Linked DNA regions of Homo sapiens. The protein of the gene in region 6 purifies or fractionates together with the protein of the main gene of each other region. This does not show direct contact. Each region holds a gene or a part of one and is shown on either strand. Other genes may lie near its edges. The genes, in order: CCDC9, ZC3H14, POC5, SRFBP1, GPALPP1, ARGLU1 and SRSF4.

What was found.
Region 1: the proteins of ARGLU1 (region 6) and CCDC9 purify together in Homo sapiens (affinity purification with mass spectrometry; one large-scale study listed by BioGRID and IntAct). This does not show direct contact.
Region 2: the proteins of ARGLU1 (region 6) and ZC3H14 purify together in Homo sapiens (affinity purification with mass spectrometry; one large-scale study listed by BioGRID and IntAct). This does not show direct contact.
Region 3: the proteins of ARGLU1 (region 6) and POC5 purify together in Homo sapiens (co-immunoprecipitation; one large-scale study listed by IntAct). This does not show direct contact.
Region 4: the proteins of ARGLU1 (region 6) and SRFBP1 purify together in Homo sapiens (co-immunoprecipitation; one large-scale study listed by IntAct). This does not show direct contact.
Region 5: the proteins of ARGLU1 (region 6) and GPALPP1 purify together in Homo sapiens (affinity purification with mass spectrometry; one large-scale study listed by BioGRID and IntAct). This does not show direct contact.
Region 7: the proteins of ARGLU1 (region 6) and SRSF4 purify together in Homo sapiens (affinity purification with mass spectrometry; one large-scale study listed by BioGRID and IntAct). This does not show direct contact.

The regions. Positions count from the first base shown.
Region 1 is NC_000019.10:47,269,489-47,272,453, reverse strand, and holds the end of CCDC9 (coiled-coil domain-containing protein 9), read right to left. Parts: intron 2,048-2,965; coding exon 2,001-2,047; intron 1,902-2,000; coding exon 1,766-1,901; intron 1,373-1,765; coding exon 1,267-1,372; intron 1,181-1,266; coding exon 776-1,180; 3' UTR 501-775; downstream 1-500. UniProt on the Homo sapiens protein: Probable component of the exon junction complex (EJC), a multiprotein complex that associates immediately upstream of the exon-exon junction on mRNAs and serves as a positional landmark for the intron exon structure of genes and directs post-transcriptional processes in the cytoplasm such as mRNA export, nonsense-mediated mRNA decay (NMD) or translation.
Region 2 is NC_000014.9:88,561,619-88,565,836, reverse strand, and holds the start of ZC3H14 (zinc finger CCCH domain-containing protein 14), read right to left. Parts: upstream 2,801-4,218; 5' UTR 2,704-2,800; coding exon 2,668-2,703; intron 2,491-2,667; exon of another isoform or gene 2,382-2,490; intron 2,187-2,381; coding exon 2,144-2,186; intron 1-2,143. UniProt on the Homo sapiens protein: RNA-binding protein involved in the biogenesis of circular RNAs (circRNAs), which are produced by back-splicing circularization of pre-mRNAs.
Region 3 is NC_000005.10:75,686,438-75,689,937, reverse strand, and holds part of POC5 (centrosomal protein POC5), read left to right. Parts: intron 1-772; coding exon 773-926; intron 927-2,609; coding exon of another isoform or gene 2,610-2,728; exon of another isoform or gene 2,729-2,990; intron 2,991-3,500. UniProt on the Homo sapiens protein: Essential for the assembly of the distal half of centrioles, required for centriole elongation. Acts as a negative regulator of centriole elongation.
Region 4 is NC_000005.10:121,964,975-121,968,474, reverse strand, and holds part of SRFBP1 (serum response factor-binding protein 1), read right to left. Parts: intron 1-3,500. UniProt on the Homo sapiens protein: May be involved in regulating transcriptional activation of cardiac genes during the aging process. May play a role in biosynthesis and/or processing of SLC2A4 in adipose cells.
Region 5 is NC_000013.11:44,996,038-44,999,537, reverse strand, and holds part of GPALPP1 (GPALPP motifs-containing protein 1), read right to left. Parts: intron 1-3,500.
Region 6 is NC_000013.11:106,561,638-106,565,137, forward strand, and holds part of ARGLU1 (arginine and glutamate-rich protein 1), read right to left. Parts: intron 1-3,500. UniProt on the Homo sapiens protein: Dual function regulator of gene expression; regulator of transcription and modulator of alternative splicing. General coactivator of nuclear receptor-induced gene expression, including genes activated by the glucocorticoid receptor NR3C1.
Region 7 is NC_000001.11:29,179,101-29,183,072, forward strand, and holds the start of SRSF4 (serine/arginine-rich splicing factor 4), read right to left. Parts: upstream 2,801-3,972; 5' UTR 2,653-2,800; coding exon 2,546-2,652; intron 1-2,545. UniProt on the Homo sapiens protein: Plays a role in alternative splice site selection during pre-mRNA splicing. Represses the splicing of MAPT/Tau exon 10.

The DNA.
Region 1 (2,965 bases), on a different chromosome or scaffold from region 6:
TTTCCAAAACCCCTGAGCTCGACTCCAAAATTCTAATCCTTTCCTTAACCCCACCTCCTCAACCTCCATACCAAATTCCTATTGGCTTGGCCCATAAAGTTGCCCCTTTGCCCCACCCCTGCCACCCGGCTCCAGCCCCCCATCCCTATCCGAGCTCACCCTTTTCACCTCACCTCTATGGTCCAACTGCTACCTACACACATTCACCCCACTCCCCCCAAGCCCTCTGCCCCTCAGCCCCAGAGAAAGAGGAAGCAGCGGCCTCCATCCCATGCCCCATGCACTCCCCCACCTGGAGTTGCCTCAGACCCTTCCTCTTCAGCTTCCTGGGTTCCTCGGAGGCTGGGCCCACTCTCCGGGAAGGCAGGGGCTGACTGGCCACCTCCTAGGGAAGGGGAGCCCCAGTCAAGCCCCCTTTCCCGCCTGACATCTCCCCACCCCAAGAGAGAAGGCCCAGGGGGAGTTGAAGGGGGTTCAAGGACACACCTGGGGGAATGTCATTGGAGGATGTGAATTCTTTATTGGGGAGGGGGCTCGAAGGGCTGGGGCAGGCTCTGGGAGTGGACATTCCAGAGACGGGCATGACAGTACAGAAGAGCATGGGCTGCGCTACCCCCTCAGCTGACAGGGCTGTGGGGCACACTGGGTCCCAGGGCCCAGCCCCAAGGGTCCCCCACCAGCCACACCCCTCTAGCGCGCGCGCGCGCGCGCGCGCGCGCGCACACACACACACACACACACACACACACACACACACACACACAGGCAGCCAGCTTCATACACTCTCAAAAGGCCAGGCCTCACCCGGGGAGAGGGCGCCAGCCAGGTGAGTGGTCCGGGGAGAATTCAGCTCCACCTCTTCACCCCAATCGGACACAGGCTGGTGGCCGCTGGGTGGTGAGAAAGGGCTGGAAGGCGTGCCAGGGGCCTGGGGCTCCAGCAGGGGCTCCTCCGGACTGAAGGGGACTCCGTGGGCCTGCTCACTGCAGGGGATCCCGGTGGGGGCAGCCTCTGGGGCTTGGTGGTCTTGGGCTGGTTCCTCCTCATCACCTTCTTCCACCTCGATCTCCTCCTCTTCCTCATCCTCACTTATGTCCTCCCATTCTTCATCCTCTTCCCCCTCATTCTCTTCCCCCTCGTCTTCAGGAGGCCGGTGGGCAGGAGCTGGGATCTCGGGTGGCTTTGGGGACACAGGCAAGTCAGGGCAAGGCACAGGTCCTGAGCCCCCACCCCAGGCCCGTGCCCTGAACCACAGCCCAGCCTCACCTGCATGGGTGTCTCCTTGGGGGAAGTCTCGGGGGAAGTAGGCTGTGGAGTCTCAGGGGCTGGGGATGCTGCCCCTTCTTTTGTCTCCCAGCGGTCATCATGGTCACTAGAGGGAACAGAGGGAGGGGTGATGCCTGGGTGGAGAGTAGACAGGAGGAAGGGGCTTCCTGCCTCCACCCTCCCTAGGGAGGAGCTGCCCAGAGCATCTGGCATGGTGGAGGGCTGAGGGAATGGCGGATGTGTGTCCCCATGTGTCAAGGACAGAACGAAAGTGGGGCAGGTAGCAGGAGAGGAGATGGGTGACGGCAGAAAGGGGACAGATGAGGGTAAAACCAAGAGCCAGATCCCAAGCCCCTCAAACCACGGACCTGCGAGATAGACAGGGCCAAGACAAAGACAGGGACAGACAGATGTACCCACACCTTCACAGCAAGCCAAAGAAGAGAACGCCCTGCGGAGAGCCCTGGGGGTATGCAAGCCCGCAGAAGGGGTGCCCCACCTGTAGGCCCTGGGCGCTGCCTTGGCCTGGGGCCGACTGCTCTTTCTCCTTCTGCGGCTGCTGGCCTCAGCTTTGTGCTGGGACAGGAACTCCCCAAAAGTAGGGGGCTTCGGGGGCCGGGCCCAGGCCTGGTCATCTGCAACAGAACCCAGGTGTCATTGGGAAGGGAAGGTGTGGCACACACCACCCCTGACTCCCAGACCGAGCCTCAGCTCATCCAAGGGCACCCACTCACCATAGCGGTGGGATGGTTCATGGGCAGGGACTGGGCCATCCTTGAACCTGGGGGAAAGATAACGGGTGAGCGGGCAGCTGGGGGAACAGGGTAACAAGAGGATCAAGAAGATGGGAGAGGTCAGGGTCAGGAATCGGATCAGAGACAGACGGTCAACCAGACAGGGGACACTAGAAGTAGGACAGGGCCGGGCATGGTGGCTCAAGCCTGTAATCCCCGCACTCTGGGAGGCCGAGGCAGACAGATCGCTTGAGCCCAGGAGTTCAAGACCAGCGTGGTGAACATGGTGAAGCCCCACCTCTACAAAAAATACAAAAATTAGCTGGGCGTGGTGGCACGTGCCTGTAATCTCAGCTACTCGGGAGGCTGAGGAGGGAGGATCACTTGAGCCTGGGAGGTCAAGGCTGCAGTGAGCAGTAATCAAGCCACTGTACTCGAGCCTGGGTGACAGAGGGAGACCCTATCTCAAAAAAAAAAAACAAAGGATAGGACCAGGTGATGGGCAAGAGGCAAATTTGACAGCATAGTGACAAATACAAAAAGATTCAGAATGTGGGCGCCAAAACAAAAATTTGGGGGGATCACCACAGACCCTTGCCCAAGTACATGACCCACAACTCCCTATCTGACCTTTCCCACCAGTCTCCCTCACCTCTCCAGCTAAGCAGGCTCTTCCACCACACCTAGCTCCTGCCTCAGGGCCTTAGCGCCTGCTCCTGGAACGTTCTTCCCACGTTTTTCACTGGCTCACTCCCTCACCTCCTTTCAGGGCTCTGCTAAGAGGCCTTCCTGAACCCCCAGCTAAGATAATATTAGGGCCGGGCACGGTGGCTCACGCCTGTAATCCCAACACTTTGGGAGTCCAGGTGGGCGGATCACCTGAGGCCAGGAGTTCGAGACCAGGGTGAAACCCCATCTCTACTAAAAATACAAAAATTAGCCGGGCTTGGTGGCTGGCACCTGTA
Region 2 (4,218 bases), on a different chromosome or scaffold from region 6:
TTTTTATATATCTTGTTCTATGTGCTTATGACTGAAGAATATGAAAAAATCTGGTCTCACAGATATGCAGTTGAAAAAGGAGTATTCTGATAGTCTTTTCAGATAAGGTGGATATTCTTCTGTGACACTACACCAAAACTAAACAAGTGGTAGCTTATTAAATGTTAAAGCAACGTGGAATGTCAAATACGTCAATGACCTTTTTGAACTGTTGCACAAAAATCCACTGACCCACCCCAGAGTTTAAATAAATCTTTAATCCACTGCATAATTTTGTAATATTATGCATTGGTTATTTAGAAAAGATTGGTTCACTTAGCTACAAAAACCACTGACACGTTGATATATTTCATTATGCAGTATAAAATAATTATTTTTTAATATCGCCATTGAGTTGGCCGGATGCAGTGGCTGACACCTGTAATCCCAGCACTTTGGGAGGCTGAGGCACGCGAATCACAAGGTCAGGAGTTTGAGACCAGCCTGGCCAACATGGTGAAACCCTGTCTCTACTAAAAATACAAAAAATTAGCTGGGTGTAGTGGCAGATGCCTGTAATCCCAGCTACTCGGGAGGCTGAGGCAAAAGAATCGCTTGAACCCGGGAGGCAGAGCTTGCAGTGAGCCAAGATCACGCCACTGCACTCCAGCCTGGGCAACGAGTGAAATTCCATCTCAAAAAAAATAATAATAATAACAAATTTTTTTTAAATCACCATTTATTTAATCAGAAATTTTTTAAGTACTGGGAAGCTGTGAAATTCATGGAGGCAGGCTCAGATTTTCCAAAATTCTAATTTTCATTTGAAAGCTCACATGTGATTGGCAACAAAGACTATGGATTCTTTTCTTTGCTCACTTTCAAGTAAATATCTGCCAAATATCCTAGTGTATGTAACCAGTTTGTCAGTACTTTGAAGTTAAAAATGATGTTCCCTGAAAGAGGTGGCTAGCTTAGTTCTCAACTAAAATGATTTTCCTCAGAACAATCGTATTTCAGTATACAATAAAAATGTTTTATGAGCATTTCTATTTCCTCGCACTGAATACTAAGAAGATAAAAAATATTTTGTAAACCCTGGACTTCACATCTTCATCAATGACATTTTAAGTGTAATTGGCTCAAAAAGAAAAAAACTACAAGGGGGGAGTGATTTGAATATGATTTCATTATGGTGTTACTATGCTGACAAGTTTTATCAACCATTAGTTTTACACAATCCAAACACCACCACCACAGTGAAAAATAACAAATACCATCTTAGTATTAATATGAAAACAGTTTTGACTTCAGAGGCCCTTGGAGTCTCCCACACTTTGAGAACCACTGTCATTAGTGGTAGCTATTATTTTTATAGGAGGCACCAGCTTTGGGGGCAAACCATAAAACCTTGCTCAAGTAGGCAAAGCCTCAGTTTCCTTGTTTACACAGTCAAAGATACTGCCACTTACCTTCCAGGATTCTCGTAGGGATTATCCTGAGTTAATACATATACAATAGTTAAGCACAGTACCTGACCCAGAGTAAACACTCAAATTATAAAAGAATAAAGAGACGGAAAAAGCCTTACTGTTTCAGAGAGAGAGGGAAAACATAAAGAGATCGGAAAATAAAACTCACTGAACCATTACAGAAGCAAATGCCAGAAAGCATCAAACATTCACATCCAACATCAGAGTTCTAAAAACAAATGTCAAGAGGAAAGTAACAAGAATAGGAAACTTTAAACAGGCATGGTGGCTCACACCAGTAATCCCCGCACTCCCAGCACCTAGGGAGGCTAAGGTCAGATAATTGCTTGAGCCCAGGAGTTAAGACCAGCCTGGGCAACGTAGCGAGACCCGTCCCTAGAATTTAAAATGAGAGAGAGAGAGAATAGGAAAAACATAAAATAAAATTCGGTCAAACAGAGCCTTAACGGAGGAAACTAAATTTCAAAACACCATAACAGAAGGAGGTTTGGGAGAAAAAAAACAAGGTTGCAAAAAGATGATAAAGAAGTAACCAGGGAGTATAAGATTTGAAGAAGGTAGAAGGGAGTCTCTCCCAATGTCCAAAGTACGGTGAGAAATACGCATTCACTAAAATTCTATTAGCTGCAAACTCTAAATTCTGTAAGACTAACAACCAAAAAAACACTTACCAACATAAGCTCCTAATTCTTGTAATTTCCCCTTAATGGCACTCTGAGAGAAAAAGAGCAAACGTGCATGTGAGAAAGGCGGCTCTAGGAAAACAAGACCGGACTCTGCAGCGGCTGAGGCCACTTTGCTGGTGCGCGCACCTCGGATCCCCCGGGCGGGGGCTGGGAGGAGCCTCGCCTGCACCGCCCCCCACCCCGCACCCCACTCCAGCTCCAGCCCCAGCCCCGCGGCGCCCACCTCCCGCAGCGGATCCAAAGCGGCGCCGTGCGCCGCGGTGGTGGCTCCAGCCGGGCCTGCGCCTGTCCTTCCATTTCCCGGCGGCTACTTCAGCCGCAGCCACGCTCCGAGGCCGCAAATGTCCCCAGGGCCGAGGCGGCCTGGACGAGGAGGAGCCGCAGCCCGCCAGGAGCGTCCAGCGGAGGCCAGGCCGCGGCGTCCACCCGGGCCCACAGTCCCCGTTACTCCTGACAACCGCCCGCTCGCCGAGACCTGGCTTCCCACCCCCGACCGGCACGGGCCTCACCCGGATCTTGCGGCTGATCTCGGTGCCGATCTCCATGGCTCTGCGGCGTGCGGGAACTCAGCACTGCGCGGCGCTTGGCTTACCCGGAGGCTGCCGCGGACTCCTACCCCGCAGCCGGGACACCACCGCCTCCTCCTCCGTTCCGCCCCCGGCCGCGCACACGGCGTATCCCCGCCCCGGCCGGCACTGCGCGCCGGAGTGAACGCGCATGCGCCCGTGTCCGCGCCTGCGCACGCCTTCTACCCGCGAAACCTGTGCTCAGGCAAGGAGGGCGGCGGCGTGCGCGTGCGGGTGGTCTTGCAGCTCCGCCTCCCGGGCACCTCGGGGACCTTTCGTTAGTCTCTCTGCTGGCCCTCCGCTTATTCATTTTATTCTCTCTTGGATGGTAAGAATGAATTAAATGTGTAGCAGAAAGATCTTGGGCTGTGATATGAGACGCGAGTTCAAATCCAGCCCTCACTTACTGTCAGTATGGTATCGGTCCAGGTATTTCAACTTTTCTTACCTGTAAAATGGAGTCTGCCCATTAGAGGTTGCACTGCAATTACCCTTGAAGGGAAAATGGACTATCCAGAGCAACAGAGCCAATCCGTCAACTCTTTGACTCTGCAGTACACTGGCCCTCCTGGGTTTGGTTCTGCCTTCCTTCTTCCAGGGCCACCCGTGGCCTCTCCCCGAGACGAATCCCATCCTCCTGCTTCTCTGAACACCCTCCGTGGGACAACACTTTTGTTCTTAGGACTTAAGTTGTCAACTCTGTGCTGATAATGACCGAATTTTCCATCAGCCTTGAATTCTCACACAAACCCCACTCCCAAATTCTAAGTAACTACTCTTATTTTCTCCCAACTCAGCGCTTAGACAGAAGTCGCCTTCATCTCCCCTTCCTCCACTCAATAGGTTACTACTGTTGATTCCCCTATTTGTATCAATAGCCGAATTCTCCCTATCCCTGATCACAAAACCTGGGAAACAGAGGAAGCACAGAGAGGTCTCCTTTCTCCCTCATATCCACTAATTCCTGAGAGTGGTCTCTGTTATCCATTGCTGCATAACAGATGACCACAAATTTAGCAGCTTAAAACACAAACGTTTATCATCTCATGGTTTCCGTGGGTCAACCTCACTGGGTCCTCTGCTCAGGGTCTCACAAGGCTACAATCGTGTCAGGCAGGCTGTATTCTCATCTGGAGGCTTGACTGAGGAGGAATCTATGTTCAGGCTCATTCAGGTTGTTAGCAAGAATTCATTTCTGGCTGAGTGCGGTGGCTCATGCCTGTAATCCCAGCAGTTTGGGAGGCTTAGGCTGGCGGATCACTTGAGACCAGGAGTTCGTGACCAGCCTGGGCAACATGGCAAAAACATGTCTCTTCAAAAGTACAAAAAATTAGCTGGGCGTGGTGGCATGCACTTCTAGTCTCAGCTAGTTGGGAAGCCGAGAGGGGAGGATTGCTTGAGCCTGGGAGGCAGAGGTTGCAGTGAGCCAAGATCATGCCACTACAGCCTTGATGAGAGAGTGAGACCCTGTCTCAGGAAAAAAAAAAATAATTC
Region 3 (3,500 bases), on a different chromosome or scaffold from region 6:
TCCAACCTAGGCAACAAGAGCAGAAATCCATCTCAAAAAAGAAAAAAAGAAATTGAAATTATTTTTTCCCATTGACTTTTAATAATAAAATTAACATTGTTTTCATGGGAAAACATTTGGAATTGAAATGAAATAAAATCCATTCTAAAGAATGCAATAGGCCTCTTGAAGTTAAATATTAAAATGAAAAAATAACTCATTACAGCATTAAATTGTTAAGATTAAAAATAAATCCATAATACAAATAATTTTCTGCAGTTCACTACGACATGCAAAAAATGCAGTCCCCTGAGGTTTGGCCTATGGGAAAGTGTGTTGTACCTAGGGTCACTCTGCACTTCAAATACTGAAGGTAACATTTACATTATAAAAATTCTGTTAATATTGCAGGCATGTAGTTTATTTTATTTTTTTCTGAAAGGGCTGTCTGTGGCTCTTAATGTATTTTGTTTAACATCCTACATAAAAGTTTTACAGTAAAAAATGGTGTATCTTTTTGTGAAATGAAAATACATCAGCAATATTCAATGGGACTGGATAAAATTCCCCTTGTTTGAACCTTGATTTTAAGGTTAGGAATGAAAGCATTTTGTTGATGGAGATAATAGAGGTAAGAGGTACCTTTTAAAATAAATTGCACATAGCAGAAGAGGTAAGTGACAAACTTTTTAATATTTCACATGAGAATAATCTCAAAGTATATATCTATTTTTTTGACAGTATTCTTCTTTGTATCTCAAATTGTTTTGCTTTTTAAACATTCTTATTTTAGTTATCTGGAGCTTTGGAAAATGCAAAAGCTGAGATTCAAAGAATGCAACATGAAAAAGAGCACTTTGAAGATTCCATGAAAAAAGCTTTCATGAGGGGTGTATGTGCATTAAATCTTGAAGCCATGACTATATTTCAAAACAGAAATGATGCAGGTTAGTATTTCATTAAAGTTTCTCTGCCTAATTTCAAAAAAAGATTTGAGGAGATTTTGGTGATTGGTATGGTCTACAGTACAAATAATCTGCAGTAGGTATGTTTCATCCAGGTGCTGCTATTCTTAATTCTATGGTGTCATATCCAGACTTAAATCTGCCATGAAAATGAGCTCAGTCATGGTTACTTATGGTATCTTAGATCTGATCAAGTACACTGTCACTCCTAAGTATTTAAGCTAAATGTTGAAAATAATATTTTAATGTATAGCATTATTTTAAATCTCTTTTAACTAAGAATTTTAATGCCTTTTTAAGTACAAAACTTCTAATTTTGTCTTTTCTTAAGTAGCCAAATATTTTGGACTATTTTGGTAAGTATTTGTTATCTAGTCATGGTTTCTCATTTTAGAAATTCCTAATCTTCCTGTTTATGAAAGGCCTCAACTAAGCTCATTGCAGCAAACATAAATATAGACCTATCTATAGAAGTAATTTTATTTTTTTTAAAAATCCACATATTGTCTGACATAAGAGTGGTTTGTGTAGTAGTTTTGTCAGCATGGCGTAGAAAAGCCCATAACTAGAATCCTTTGCCACCAATTTACCCAGGGGCCTGTTTTCCTCATTCGGCCTTAGATTTCTTCTCTGAGCGAAGGAGATAATATAAACCTTCCTTACCTGCTTCCTAGGGGCTTCTTGTGGGATGCAGTAAAACATATCTGAAAACACTTTAAAAGACAAAATGCACTTTAACGTGTAAGATGATAGTCATGATGTAATTATTAATAGTTTTAATTCAAGTCAACGTCTCAAGATTTTGTAAATGATTAACATGATTTCAATCCAATGAATAACTTCTCTGTGCTTGTGATGCCCTTATTTTAAAACATCAACAAACATTTATTATTTAAAGCATGCATATTGTGGATAGGAGTAAGTTTAGGCAAATTGCTTTCTATCTGAAGTGGTTGTGGTTTGTGGGCCATATTTAATTTAGAAACTGAGAATCATGGAATCTCAAGGCTGAATAGTTTATTTTGGTAATACCTAGGTGAGTACTTGATTTTTCCAATAAATGGTCTTTTATTTGAGTATCAGGGTTGAAAACAAACTCACCACCTTCAATGATAGAATAGTCTGTTTCAGTTCTAAGTATCAGCAAGTTGTGTGTCACAAATTGAGAAATTTAATTGTTTACTTGGGAGAAATATGAGTTTCACAAGTAAAGTGACAAATTCCTATTAGAACTTCTTACATTAAATTACAAGAAACCTGTTTCTTATAACCTACTTAAAAAGATTTTGAATTGACTTAGGAGTATTTCCCACCTTAATACATTTACCATCTTAAAATGTAAATTGAAATGCAACTGTGTCTCCTAAAGGCCAATATCCATAAGAGGATTTGAAGAAAATGTCTTCTGCTAATTACACAACATGATTTCTTTTGCTCCTGTTACTTTTGAAACAATCGATGAGAAAGATGACAAGAATGGTAAAGCATGCATTAGCAATAATGTTGGTAGAGCTACCAAAGGCAAAAAAGTTCAGTATAATTCAGTGGATCTGCTTTGTGATATTTAGGTTTTATGACATTTTAATGACACCTATTTTTTTTAGTTCTCATAAGAAAAAAAAATTACTTTTGGCCCCCTTCTATTAAAACAACTGTTTTTTATAGGCCAGGCGCGGTCGCTCACACCTGTAATCCCAGCACTTTGGGAGGCCGAGGTGAGTGGATCACGAGGTCAGGAGATCGAGACGATCCTGGCTAACATGGTGAAATCCCGTCTCTACTAAAAATACAAAAAATTAGCCGGGCGTGGTGGCAGGCACCTGTAGTCCCAGCTACTCAGGAGGCTGAGGCAGAAGAATGGCGTGAACCCAGGAGGCAGAGGTTGCAGTGAGCTGAGATCATGCCACTGCACTTCAGCCTGGGCGACAGAGCGAGACTATCTCACAAAAAAAAAAATTGTTTTTTATAATGCAGTTTTTAATAATGTAAAGTTCCTAATGCATCTGTCTTGTTAGAGCAAAATAAATATTTGGTTTTTTATTTGTACCGATTCTTTGCTGTCTGTAATTTGCAGTACCTCTCATGTTGTGCAGTATCTTAAATCTTACAAATTAGAGGTTTTTATGAAGAAGTTAGAACATGACAAAAAGTCCTTAAAATTATATCTGCCAATTTTACTGTGCCAATTAGGCACAGTAAAAAAAAATACTTGACAAGTGAAAAATTTATTCCAGCTAAAATGAGATTAATTATTAAACTTAAGAGTTATCTGATATCAGCCTATATTAGCAAGAGTTGATCACCTGCCTCTCTTCCCTGACCTTCATACTGTTTCTACATCTCCTAATGTCTGCCACCATCTAAAGATAGACACTCAGAATCTCTACCAAAACAAGTTAAAACTCAGTGTGTGTTTTGTTTTCAAATTAAAAGTATTTTATATTGAATTAGTCCCTTTCATCAGAGGAGTTCAAAGGATCTAGGTAGGCACTGTAATCATTGTTAAACTTCTTAAATAAGCTAACTAACTAATACTCTGCAAATTTTCTATACAGA
Region 4 (3,500 bases), on a different chromosome or scaffold from region 6:
CAGTAGTCCCCCCCACCAACAATTTTGTTGTCAGCAGTTTCAGTTACCTGCGGTTAGCCAAAATTCCAAATATAAATAACTCATAAATTTTAAATTGTGCACCACTCTGAGTAGCATAATGAAATCTCTCACTGTACTACTCCATCCCACATGGGATGTAAATCATACATCCAGTGTATTTCTGCTGTATCCGTTACCTGCCCATTACTGTACAGAAAATAATAATAATAATAATAATAATAATAATAATAATGACAGAGTTTGGTACTATCTGAGGTTTTAAGCATACACTGGGGGTCTTGGAACATAACCCCCATGGATAAAGGGAGACTACTACAATTTATAATTTGTAAAACAATATGCAGTTTAAAAGTATACAACACAATACTATACACTGGGTATAGATACGTATGTTACTAAAATTGTGAAAAATATATAAGAGAAAAACACACACCAAGAGGAATAATTACCTCTGAGGTAGAAAAGAAGATGGGTGGAATTAAATATTAAGATATAGCAAAACACTGACATTTCCTAAACATAGGAAGTAGATTATAAGAAGATCTGTTACATTATTTTCCATACGTTTGAAGTAATTCATAGTTAACAAAATTATTGGGTTTCTTGTCTTTGTTCGAAACAAGGTCTGGCTCTATTGCCCAGGCAGGAGAGTAGTTGTGTGATCTCGACTCATCACAACCTCCGTCCCCCTCCCGGGCTCAAGCCATCTTCCCACCTTAGCCTCCCAAGTAGCTGGGACTACAGGTACGTACTACCATGTTTGGCTAATTTTTCTGTATTTTTTGTAGAGACGGGGTTTCACCATGTCGCCCAGGCTGGTCTCAAACTCGTGAGCTCAAGTGATCTGCCGGCCTCAGCCTCCCAAAGTGCTGGGATTATAGAGTGAGGCACTGCACCTGGCCAAAATTATTTTTGTATGAAGAGGACCCTAATTTTATCATATGGATGATAACTTATTGTTGATTTTACTTTTTATTTCTGATGAGCAACAATTTTTTAAAATACCTAGAGTGCTTAGTGATTATCTACGATTTAACCATTATTGGGCATATGCTGCCACCTAGCAAAACTTCCCAGAATAGTTTAATAACTAAACACAAATTGGTTCTTACGGAAATGCCCTAATTTAATATTTCAGAAAAAAATTATTAAAAAGTACTATGCACCTAATCACGACACAAGCGTTTTGTAACTTCATAAGCGCATACAAACGTGGTTCTTGACATTCTTATGTTTTACAATATGTGGAGGAAACTCATTTTGTTCTTTGGCACTTTAGTTTCTACCTTTACTGTCTTACATGAAATGAAAAGCAATTTTCTAATGGGCTTAATGGTAATTTGCTATCAAACAATAAAATAGGCCAGGCGTGGTGGCTCATGCCTGCAATCCCAGCACTCTGGGAGGCTGAGGCAGGCGGATCACGAGGTCAGGAGATCGAGACCATCCTGGCTAACACGGTGAAACCCTGTCTCTACTAAAAATACAAAAAAAAAAAAAAAAAAAATTAGCTGGGCGTGATGGTGGACGCCTGTAGTCCCAGCTAGTCGGGAGGCTGAGGCAGAAGAATGGCGTGAACCCAGGAGGTGGAGCTTTCAGTGAGCCAAGATCCTGCCACTGCACTCCAGCCTGGGCGACAGAGCGAGACTCCGTCTCAAAAAAAAAAATAAAAAATAAAAAATAAAAAAAAATAAAATGTCAGTTGTACATATAGGCCGTTGGCCTTCCTATGAAATTAAAGCACTCCATCAGATTGCTACACCTCCTAAATCTGATTTTTACATATCACTGCTGCCTAAATTTTAGAAAACAGATGACTTGAGAAAATCTAGCTCTAGTTTTGCAAATTATTTACGCACTAAATGCTATGGCACTGTTGTTTTCAATTGTGCATTTCTCCTCTAGTTCTAATGGAAAGGGAGGAAAAAAAGCATTTAGGAGATTTTCCCTCTCATTTGAACATTAGTTGACAGTTATGCTATCCATGCTTTCATCTGCCCATTATATACCTACTTCTTATTACCTGTAGACAAGGTACTGTGCTGGAGGTTAGGGAAGCTGCTATAAAAGCAATCAAAAATTCTCTCTTCAAAGTACCAAAAATATGCAATAAATAATCATCAGGATAGAGTAAAAAGTGATGGTTTATTTTTTAGAAGAGTAAAGATAAATTTTTACTTTACTTCGCAAGAATAACAACAAACTTTAATCTTAATCTCTTTACAACATACTTAGTATTGGAAGTTCTGGCCGGGGTAATCAGGCAAGAGAAAGAAATAAAGCGTATTCAAATAGGAAGAGAGGAAGTCAAACTGTCTCTATTTGCAGAAGACATGACTGTATATCTAGAAAACCCCATTGTTTCAGCCCCAAATCTCCTTAAGCTGATAAGCAATTTCAGCAAAGTCTCAGGATACAAAATCAATGTGCAAAAATCACAAGCATTCCCATACACCAATAATAGACAAACAGAGAGCCAAATCATGAGTGAACTCCCGATTCACAATTGCACAAAGAGAATAAAATGCCTAGAAATACAACTTACAGGGATGTGAAGGACCTCTTCAAGAACTACAAACCACTGTTCAAGGAAATAAGAGAGGACACATACAAATGGAAAAACATTCCATGCTCATAGATAGGAAGAATCAATATCGTGAAAACAGCCATACTGCCCAAAGTAATTTATAGATTTAAAGCTATCCCCATCAAGCTACCATTGACTTTCTTCACAGAATTGGAAAAAACTACTTTAAAGTTCATATGGAATCAAAAAAGAGCCTGCATAGCCAAGACAATCCTAAGTAAAAGGGACAAAGCTGGAGGCATCATGCTACCTGACTTCAAACTATAATACAAGGCTATAGTAACCAAAACAGCATGGTACTGGTACCAAAACAGATATATAGACCAATGGAACAGAACAGAGGCCTCAGAAACAACACCACACATCTACAAACATCTGATCTTTGACAAACCTGACAAAAACAAGCAATGGGGAAATGATTCCCTATTTAATAGATGGTGTTGGGAAAACTGGGTAGCCATATGCAGAAAACTGAAACTGGACCCCTTCCTTACACCTTATACAAAAATTAACTCAAGATGGATTAAAGACTTAAACGTCAGACCTAAAACCATAAAAACCCTAGAAGAAAACCTAGGCAATACCATTCAGGACTGAGGCATGGACAAAGACTACATGACTAAAACACCAAAAGCAATGGCAACAAAAGCCAAAAATGACAAATGGGATCTAATTAAACTAAAGAGCTTCTTCACAGCAAAAGCAACTATCATCAGAGTGAACATGCAACCTACAGAATGGGAGAAAATTTTTGCAATCTATCCATCGGACAAAGGGTTAATATCCAAAATCTACAAAGAACTTAAACAAATTTACAAGAAAAAAACAACCCCATCAAAAAGTGGGCGAAGGACATGAACAGACACTTCTCAAAAGAAGTCATTTATGCAGC
Region 5 (3,500 bases), about 62 Mb from region 6:
ATAAAAGTAAGGACATGTCTGGCTTCACTTTTTTATAGATATCCTTCTGAACTATGAATAATCTCAAAAAATTATTTTGGGAACATGTAATGAACTATTCCATATCTCTCCTAAAGCAGTGATGCTTGTCGTCATTAAGGAGGCTCTCCTATTGCAATGATAATTTTCCAAATAGATTATAAATTCCATGAGAACAGGAGTTACGCGTTCCTTATATTTCACTTATTTCCCTTTCATATCACACAGAATTGTGATATGCATATAAAAAAATGAACTCAGTATAATACATAAAAATCTCATTACAGATCAGCATTAACAGATGAACATCCACAACTGATTCTGATGACTAGGAATGCTAACTTGAACTCCGATGAAATGAAATGTTACTCCCCCAAAACCAATTCTGTTCTTCTCATTAGTAGACCTGTATTACAAAAAAATTATATGGTATTATGTTTTAGATTGCAACAATAAAATTTTGTGAAGTTTGCTTCCTTCTTGTTGTACACATACTTTTACAATAATCTTGATTTTGCCTACTGACCTACAGTCAAAAGTACAGTTGTCCCTCGGTATTCTCGGGAGATTGGTTCCAGGACCAACTCCCCTGTTTGCAGCTACCAAAATCTGTGGCTATGGCCTTGGTTCCACTTCCCTTGAATATTGTACTTTCAATCTAGAGTTGGTTGAACCTGAAGACTCAGAACCTGCAGATCTACAGGGTCAACTGTATTTACTATCTGGTCCTTTACAAGAAAAGTTTGCTGACCCCATGACATGGTTAAATCATGCAAATATAAAGAAGGGGCACCCAACCCATCTTTTACAGGCAGTAGGTAGTTAACATCAAAGAATGTTTCCTAGAAGCAGTGATGTAGGGGTGGGACCTGAGTTAGCTGGGCAAAGAAGGTGGGGACTGGACGAAGAGTAGTCCAGGCAGAAAGAAAAGCATCTGCAAAAGCCTGAAAGCAAAAGAGTCATCACATTTAGAAAACTGAAAGGTGTTCAGGATGGTTGGAACCAAGAGAGGATAGAGAGGGGCCAAATGTTGCTGTGAGGTCAAGGAAGACTAGGACTGAAAAGGAAGCCTTGAATTGGTGAGGGTCTCAGTGGACTGGTGAGGGCAGAAATGCAATGGGTTAAGGAGAAAATAGAAGACCCAGAGACAGTGAGAAAGAAAAAGATGCAGCTAGAGGGGGATATGAAGTAGAGTTTTCTTCAAAGATGGGAAAGATTTGAATGTTTTGGTTAAATGCTAAGGGCAGGCAGCCCTAAGGACAGGGAAGGGAGTCAGAGTAAAAATGGAAGGATTAGCTTTAGAAGGAAGCAGTATACCTCTTCTATTGTTACCAAAGGGCAGACAAAAAGCTTGGCGTGGATTTAGGATAGTTTTTAGATACAGTAACAGAAAATTGAGGAAGTTCTCTTATGATGGCATCTACTTGTTCAATGAAGTAGACGGAAAAATAAAAGTTTTAGAAAGAAAGGGAAAGTTTTAAAAAGCCAAGGTTGCAGATTGGGGAAGAGAAAGGAGGTGAAGCCTGTGAGGATTACTGGACAGACCTATGGACCCAGTTAGGGAACAGGCCATCTTTTAGCAGCATTAGCTTGTGGAGGCGTGAGGTTTCTTCTAGCAGCATTAGGAAGCCTGGCTGTAGGCTCACAAGGGGTAAACACTTGGACTGATCCAGGGCTGGGCTTTTGTTAGATGGGTTTGGCAGAATACCCAATGGGATAAAGCAGTTGAGAGCACCAGCAAGAGAGTGGATGAATGGGTGGACCATGGAGTCTAACAGGAGTAGGGATGTAAGCACTCCTCTCAGATGGAAGTACTTAGGGATAGAAGTACTTAGGGATGGAAGGCTCAATGAGGTTAAAAAACAAAAATAAAAAGCAAATGAAATGGGAGTAACTTGAGTGAGAACAATGAATGAATAAGGGGTTCTTGCTGAGAATGAGATTTGAATTTGAGTTTTTGGAGCTGGAGTAGGGTAGACTCACTACTCCAGCTTAAAATGTAGGTGAAATTAGTGGAGGTGAAGGTCACTGCAGATAGGAGACTGGAGTTAGAGTCAAAATGGCCAAGGCTCCACTCAGCTTCCATAGAACAGCATATGGAGTCTGTGGATCGCTCTTGAGAAAATATTTGCACCCCAGGGTTTCTAATGACATGACGTTGGGGGACATTTTCCAGCAGTCAATTTTCAGAGTATTCAAATGAAGTTAACTTGTTCCATCTCAGACCTGTGTGCTCCCTCACTCCTCTTTACTCTGGTCATGCTTGTCAGATCTCCTTCTGGGACAGCAGAGTGTGAGGAACACAGGACAGATAACAGACTGGATTCAGGAATCTTCACTTGAAGGTAATCCTGACACCTGCTACCACATGGATGAAACTTAAGGACATTATGCTAAGTGAAATAAGCCAGTCCAAAAAAAAAAAAAAGACAAATACTGTATGATTCCACTCAAATGATGTACTTAAAGTAGTCAAATCATAGAGACAGAAAGTAGAATGGTGCTTGTCAGGAGCTGGAGGGGGGAATGAGGAGTTATTACTTAGTGAGTACAGAGTTTCTGTTTTACAAGATGAAAAGAGATGTGGATATGTTGGTAATAGTTGCTCAATCATCTGAATGTATTTAATGCCACTGAACTGTACATTTAAAGATGGTTAAGATGGTACATTTCATGTTATGTGTATTTTATCACAATTTTTAAAAACTGGAAAAAAAAAAAAAAAAAAAAAAAAAGAGGCTGGGCACAGTGGCTCACGCCTGTAATCCCAGTACTTTGGGAGGCTGAGGCAGATGGATCACTTGAGCCCAGGAGTTCCAGACCAGTCTGGCCAACATGGTGAAACCCCATCTCTACTAAAAATACAAAAATTAGCCAGATGTGAGGGTGCATCCCCGTAATTTCAGCTAGTCAGGAGGCTGAGGCAGGAGAATCACTTGAACCAGGAGGCAGAGGTTGCAGTAAGCTGAGATCATGCCACTGCACTCCAGCCAGGATGACAGTGAGATGCTGTTTAAAAAAAAAAAAAAATCCCGTTCCCAGCCAGCCATTAGGTTTCTTCCAGACTCCATACAAAGGATTATGGTTAGCTGTATTCATGCAGGTCCTGGCTTCTCCAACCCCCATAAATCCTGGGCCCCTCTTAAGGAATTTTTTTTTTTTTTTGCGACAAGGTCTTGTTTTAACACTCAGGCTGGAGTGCGGTGGTGTGATCACAGCTCACTGCAACCTCAAACTCCTGGGCTCAAGCAATCCTCTTGCCTCAGCCCCCCAAGTAGTTGAGACTGCATGTGCATGCTACCATGCCTGGCTAATTTTTAAATTTTTAGTAGAGATGAGGTCTTACTATGTTGCCTAGGCTGTTCTTGAAGTCCTGGGCTCAAGTGATCCTCCCACCTTAGCCTCCCAAAGTGCTGGGATTATAGGCATGAGCCACTGCGCCTGACCAGGAATTTTTACTGTCCTCTACTCCGCCAAAAGGA
Region 6 (3,500 bases):
CAAAGTAGAAAGAAGGCCCTAGGAGTAAAAAGTTGCCATCTTAAGAATTTGGTGAAGGCAGAAGAGACCTGATACACACTCAAGGTTATTTTTGGCAGTCAAGCCATCCCTCAGCAAAAGCGCAGTGGCTAACAGGGCCTCATTTCCATAGCTTTGGTCAGTAAGGAGAAAATGAGCCAAATAAATTTACTTACAGCAAATGCCAAATCAGAATGTCAGTTCCCTGCTTCTATTTCCACTGATGACATCAAACCAGAGGGCCCATGTAACAGGCAGTACAGGCAGGCCGTGGGCTGCTCCGCTGCTAAGGAGTCAATTCTAACTACAGCTCAGCGACTTTATAGCCCAAAGGGAGGGCAAGTGGAAAGTCCCACGCTCAACTGAAACACTGGAGAATGAGAAATGACCTAGTGCAGTTTCTCACAAAGCTGCTTATCTCCCTTTGTTCCTGGAGGAACTGCAAGGCATCCCAATATGAAAATGAAGCTTTGCAACAGGCAGGGTTCAGGGTACCACAGCAAAACTGTTTGCCTGCAAGTGTTAGCAAGAATATAATTTCTGCTGTTTTTCTTGGTAAAATTAAAAATGCTACTTCAGTAATCAGAAAAAAATTTTAAATCAAATTTTAGAAACAATGCTGAAGGAAAGCTCAATTTTATCCCCTCACCATACACTGAATTCAGCAAACCAGTGAGCACATATACAACTGAATTAAGCATGAGTTCATCTTTACTGATGGCAAATTTATCATCATAATCAATGATAAAACCACTATTATGCCTACTCCCATAAGAGGCACTGAACTTTCTTGAGTGGGTCAGTGTCTTGCAAAATAGGTATCATCTAACAGCCTATTCACTCCTCAAAACCCTTGCCATAGCAGTTGTCACCCTCATGATGTTCTTTTCTCTAATGTTTTCCTCATGCTCCTCTGCTGAATATCCATTTCCCTGCCAATAATATGTTATACTGACGAAAGCATTAAATCAAGATCTTCAAGGTTTTCAATGAAATGGTATAATACTAGGTCCTATTTTCTCTGTGCTCTCAGGTATTTTAAAAACACTAGTCAGGCTGGGCGCGGTGGCTCACGCCTGTAATCCCAGCACTTTGGGAGGCCCAGGCAGGTGGATCATGAGGTCAGGAGATCGAGACCATCCTGGCTAACACGGTGAAACCCCATCTCTACTAAAAATAAAAATAAATAAATAAATAAAAAATAAAAATTAGCTGGGTGTGGTGGCGGGTGCCTGCAGTCCCAGCTACTCGGGAGGCTGAGGCAGGAGAATGAGCTGAGATTGCGCCACTGCACCACTGCACTCCAGCCTGGGCGACAGAGCAAGACCCTGTCTCAAAAAAAAAAAAAAAAAACAAAAAAAAAAACCACTAGTCACACTGAACTTTAAAATGCTAACTATTAAAAACAAAACAGTAAGGCTACAGCACTTCGGCACTGTTACAGAGTAACTGGCACCATTATTTTAAAACATCTTTAAAATGTGGGAACTCAATCCTAGGGGTTTACTTCTAGGAATCGCTTAATAATTATTAGCAAACAGCATTTACTTATTACTTAATAGGTAACATATAATATTGTGCCAAAAGCTTTATATACCATGTCATCATTTAAATCACATAATTATTCCTATGCAGTGGGTATGTATCCCATTTTTACTGAGGAAACTAAGAACAAGGAGCTGAAGTTTCTAGACTCGAGCACACTGGATGTTGCTGAGCTGTTTCTCTGAACCTAAGTAGATGCCAAAGCTAACGATCTCAAGCAAGCACTATACTACCACCCTACACCGGTTTCTGCAGGACAAATAAGCAAGGCAAAGACAAGCACACAGATTTAACGACCAAAAAAAGGAAGAAAAAAGTATAGGCCAGGCACGGTGGCTCACATTTGTAATCCCAGCACTTTGGGAGGCTGAGGTAGAAGGATTACTTGAGGCCAGGAGTTCAAGATCAGCCTGGGAAACATAGTGACTCTGTCTCTACAAAAATAATAAATAAATAAATGAATACATATTCTTAACATCAGCTAGGTCTTATGCCTTAATGTTCTGTCAGAGCCTTAACCTCCAAAAATATGCGGTTCCATATAATCAATTTTCTCCTAAAAGCTCTTCTTTGCTCTCACAATGAACTGCCCAAGTATTCTAAGAATCACTTATATAGATCCCAGTTCAGTGTAGATACTCTAATTTAGAAGGCCCTTAATCCGTCATCCAGTTGAACACGGAGGATATTCGAACCTAGATATCACAGGCTAGAGTAAGTTACTATGCCATTAACATTTTCCTGATTTGCTGCAAGTTATTTTCAGTTGTCTATTTTTTCAACAGTTAATATAACATGCATGCAGCATCTCAAAAGAGCATTTAAGAAAATGGTGCTACTGGTGTGGGGGAGGGGTGAGAAGAACCACACTGAATGGCTGGGACGCAAGGATGAGAGGAAGATCTTTTGAACTGAATTTTGAACCATGTGAACTGCCTATTCAAAATTGAGGGCAAAAGTCTTTAAAAATGTAAAGGCCTACCTTCTCAGCATTAAGATGACAACTCATAAGATCACTTCTGAAATTCATCAGGCTCGGTCTGGCTCCATGTAAGTTAGTTACATTAAATAACATTACTTATTGAGAGCTATTACATGCCAAGTATCACCTACTTTAAATACATCATCTCCAATTTTCACAACAAGCAAGACAGATTATCTCCATTTCACAGATTTAAAAACAAGGTTAGAGGGAGGTGATTTATTCAGCAACTCAGAATTATAAGTGGTAAACCAATAAGGTTTCCAATCTTACCAAAGAATTCCTAATTAGTTAAACCCAATGGTTGATTCTTATTTTACGGTCTCTTTCCATCTAACTAGATTTCTTGTAAGGGCACTTGACACTATGCATTTTTACCATATTTCTTTCTGCTTCCACCATAGGCTCTTCTCCCTCTTCCTAACTGCAAATACAGGCATGTCCTAAGGTTCTTTCAGTCCCTTGAATGAACCGCTCTCCTCTCTCCACACTCTCCCTGGGTCATTCCATATACTCTCAAGGTTTCACGACATTCAGCGAAGCCCCTCTCAGCTAGGCTTCAGTCTCACATGATCAAGTCTGGATAAACTCAGTACAGTATATCCAAAACTAGTGCTCACAGTGAAGGCACCATTCTCTTATCCCCTTTCCCTCTCCCTTATCCACTATTTAAAAAGTTTCTGACATTTTTACCAGTACCTGCCACATGGTTGTTACTGAAACATTTGGTAGATGAGTTGCAACAGCCACACTATAAACATGAGAACCAACATTCTTTTTCTGAAGTCCCACATTCCATTTAATATACCCTGAATGTTTCTTAAATCTGTCCCTCTTTTCCATTCCAACAACCATCCTCACTACTCCTGTGTAAACTTCTGTACCCACCTCTTAGTTTCCATCCTACACAACAATCAAAACAAAAAAGGCACCATGTCATTCACCTGCTTAAAAT
Region 7 (3,972 bases), on a different chromosome or scaffold from region 6:
ATCTTCCTTTTGGGTTGCTCACTTCTTCCTTCCAGAGCCTTTGAATTCCTACTCATTGATTTCGAATTTTTAGTGTAAAATCTAATAGTCGTTGTTTCTGGTTTATGTTGTTAAATTTCTAGATTCTTCATAAGGCTTGATCCATGCTAGATTGTTTATTATTTTTCATAATTGCTTCTTACTGGACCATGTCTTCAACACCAATTATGACATTAAAAAAATATTTTTTCCCTATTCATCAAAAAGCAAAAAAAGTCAGCATTGTACTTATTTTATTAGAGATGGGGGTCTTGCTGTTACCCAGACTGGAGTGCAGTGTCACAATCATAGCTCACTGTAGCCTTGAAATCCTAGGCTGAAGTGATCCTCCTGCCTCATCCTCTGAAGTAGCTAGGACTATAGGCGAGTGTCACCACGCGTGGCTAATTAAAAAAATTTTTTTCTTAGAGATGGGGTCAGGCTGGTCTCAAACTCCTGGCCTGAAGTAATCTTCACACTTCAGCTGGGATTGCAGGCACAAGTCACCATGCCTGAGCCCCAACTACGACATATACTATTCCCAGAAACCTAAATTTCTTCACTTCAAGCTCTAATCTATTCTTCAAAGCCATTTCAACACATCTTTTCAAGCAAATCATTCCAAGTTTTACTAGAGTTTAAAGCGAAAGCAAACATTTCTTAATTCAAAGTGCACATGTCATAATGCTTAATTTATTCAAGAGCAGAACTGTTTTCTGCCTCCTCCCCCAATTCATTTAGCACAGTGGTGGACATTTTGTTGATGGGTTATCAATACATTTGGTTGATGAATCAGTTTCCCATTAACAGTCTTGTCATTTCCTGCACACTATCACCTGAGTAACATTAGAAAAGACCTCACCAAACACGCTTTATGTTATCAAACACCAACAAGCAAAGATGTTTCCTCATCCCTCTGATTATAGCTGCCACTTACTGCCTAAGCCAAATGCTTTACATTTATTATCTCTAATCTTCCTTTTCCACATGAATGAACAACCAGGTTCAGAGAAGTAACTTGCCCATACGTAGTAAGTGGTGGAACCAGGATTTGACTTAGGCCTGGCTGGCTTCAAAATCCACACTTTGTCCACAAAAGTTAGTTATGCTGTCAATTTAGCTGGGCTCTGAAAAAAACTGGAGTTTCAACTTTCACATATATGGTATGTATACAATAACGTCTACCCGCCACTTCAATATATCCTTAAGAACTGAACGTTTTACTGTAGAAAAGGAGTAGTTTTTAAAGCCTTTTACTGTAAAAGAAATCAGTACTTTACTAAAGACGTCCTCAGAAAGAAAACGATTCTAATAATTAATTTGAAATGGCTTTTTAAACCCAAATCATCATTTGAGAATACGGTAGCTACCAGTTTTCTCATACGTGAAACATACTTAGGTAACTTTCAAAATGTTTCAGGTGTCAGTTACTAGTATAACCCTGGGGAGTAAACGGTAGCTATATTACAACTGTTGCAAAGTAGAGTTTCTTTTTTAAGCCAAGAGTTCTCTAACACCCAAGGTTTAGTGCCCTAAAATGTCACCCCAGTCCTTTTAATTTTATATCCATGCCTTCCAAGCCCTACCTAACATCTGGTTCCCAGTTTTCCCCGTTGAGTATTTTCTCCAGGCCTGATTCCTCAACAGTTTTCCCTAAAACCTGTAGCTCATGCTGGCACTATTTTTGCCGAAGTAGATTAAGAATACAAGTAATAGATCATACTCTGGGGGAGGCAGTAAGTTAACAATTTCGTCTCCGTCTGCGTTAACCAGACGCAGATACTAGCCAGGGTGGCCACTATTCTCCTAACAAATTCTACAACGGCCAAGCAATTTTTCGGTAAGTTGGAAAACGGAAACCACAGCGTGGAAACTCTGCACGGAGTCTTAAAGATAAGAAGTTAAGACTTTAATTTACTCTTGCAGAGGGAACGGTGAAGGCTTTCAGCACGGCAAGACGATACTTTCGAAACTGTCACTAGACTACTCAAACTGGAGTCTCCCGCCCAAAAAAGCGTGGCACACGGCTAAAAAGGGCCTCCCTCCAAGGCTCCAGTCCTCGGGGAAGACGGCGCTGTGACCGTCTGATCCATGAGACCGGGCAAGAGGTGAAAGGGAGCAGGAAATCCTGTTTATTTCCAGTAGTCCTCAGAGCGGGAAAGGTTGGTGTCTACCCAGAAACGAATAGGGCCCCAGTTCCGGGCCTAGGAAGGGAAAACCCAGGTCTCCCGGGCGCCCTGGAGCTGTGCCCCCCTGCCCGGAGCACCAGCCCCACTCGGGCTTTCCTTCTCCCCGTCCCACTCAGGGCCTCAGCACAGCTCCCATTATGCCTCCACCACCCCCACCCGCGCAGGCGCAGTGGGAACCGGGGCCTACCCGCGCCCCCGAGGCGCCGCCACTATGGCGGAGCCTGGCCAGGCCGGTAGCCGCTCCGCGCGGACCAGGCGTCCCTCTCCCGTCCCCGCGGCCTCCCCACCACCTATGGGGTCTGTCCCCGCCCGGCCGGACCCTCTTTCGCCCTCCTCACCCGTTCTTCAGATCCACCTCCAGGATCTTCCCGTAGCCCTTAAAGAAGCGCTCCACATCGCGCTCCCGGGCCTGGTAGCTCAGGCGGCCGATGTACACCCGCGGCATCCCGGCAACGGCAGTGATGGCTGGCCCCGGCCCCAGCCCCCCTTAGGCGGCGGCGGGCAAAGCGAGAGCACGGCGGCAGCGGCGGCGGCGGCAACGGGCGGGCGGCGGGACGGACGCAGCCGAACCCCGGCGACGTACGCGAGCACGCAGCTCGCGAGCGCGCGCTTCCACTTCCCCCGCCCTTCCCCGAGGCGGAAGGTAACCGGAGAGAGCGCGCGTTCGCTTCCCGCTCGGCCAGGACTGGGGGAGGAGCTTGCCCGGGGGCGCGCCGACGTGCGGCGGGGCAAGGTGATCGACAGGCGGCGCTGCGGCACGTCCTCGCGCGAGCTCGCCAAAGGGGTTCCTGCACCGCCTTCCGCAGCCAGCTGGCTTCGCCCCTCCCCCGGAAGTGTCCGCACCTCCTAGAGCCCAGCGAGCGAGCGTTTGTGCTTTTGTCCTTTGAACCGGGTGTGGTTTGGATTTCGGAGCTGGAGCTTTGGAATCAAACCTAGCTTCCAAACGATTGTGTACCCGTGACCTTGGGCTTGTTACGCGCGATGTCTCGGACCCTCCTTTATCTTTTCTGTAAAAGGGGGAGAGTAGTTCCTACCTTCCAGAGTTGTCTTGAGAATTATATGAGAATACGTACATAAAGCACTTAGTAGTTTTGTCATATCAAGTGCCCAATAAATGAGACCAGTATTATTTTTAAGAGGACACTGCTTAAATAGAAGCAGTGTGAGAAGCGGAGAAGGCTGGAGCTTTGGAGCTAGACTAGGCATGACGCCGAGTAAATTACTTGACCACAATCCAACCTATTTTTTTTTTTTTGAGACGAGTTTCGCTCGGTCGCCCAGGCTGGAGTGCAGTGGCGCGACCTCAGCTCACTGCAACCTCCGCCTCCCGGGTTCAAGCGATTCTCCTGCCTCAGCCTCCAGAGTAGCTGGGACTACAGGCGCCCGCCCCCACGCCCGGCTAATTTTTGTATTTTTAGGAGAGAGGAAGTTTCACCATATTGGCCAGGCAGGTCTCAAACTCCAGACCTCAGGTGATCCGCCCGCCTTGGCCTCCCAAAGTGCTGGGATTACAGGCGTGAGCCACTGCGCCTGGCCTATCCAGTCTATTTTCTAACCTGTAAAATTAGAATAATGTATACCCATCTCAAGGATTACACAGGTCACTAAATGGGGTAGTGTATGTGAAAGTACTTGGAACAGTGTCTGAAACATGGTAAGAGCTCAATAAATATTGGTTCCCTTCTCACTAACGCCATGTACCTAGAACCATAAAGGGTTTTGTTTCTTTGCTTGTTTTTGTTTTTTGAATATTTTGAAAGGATAA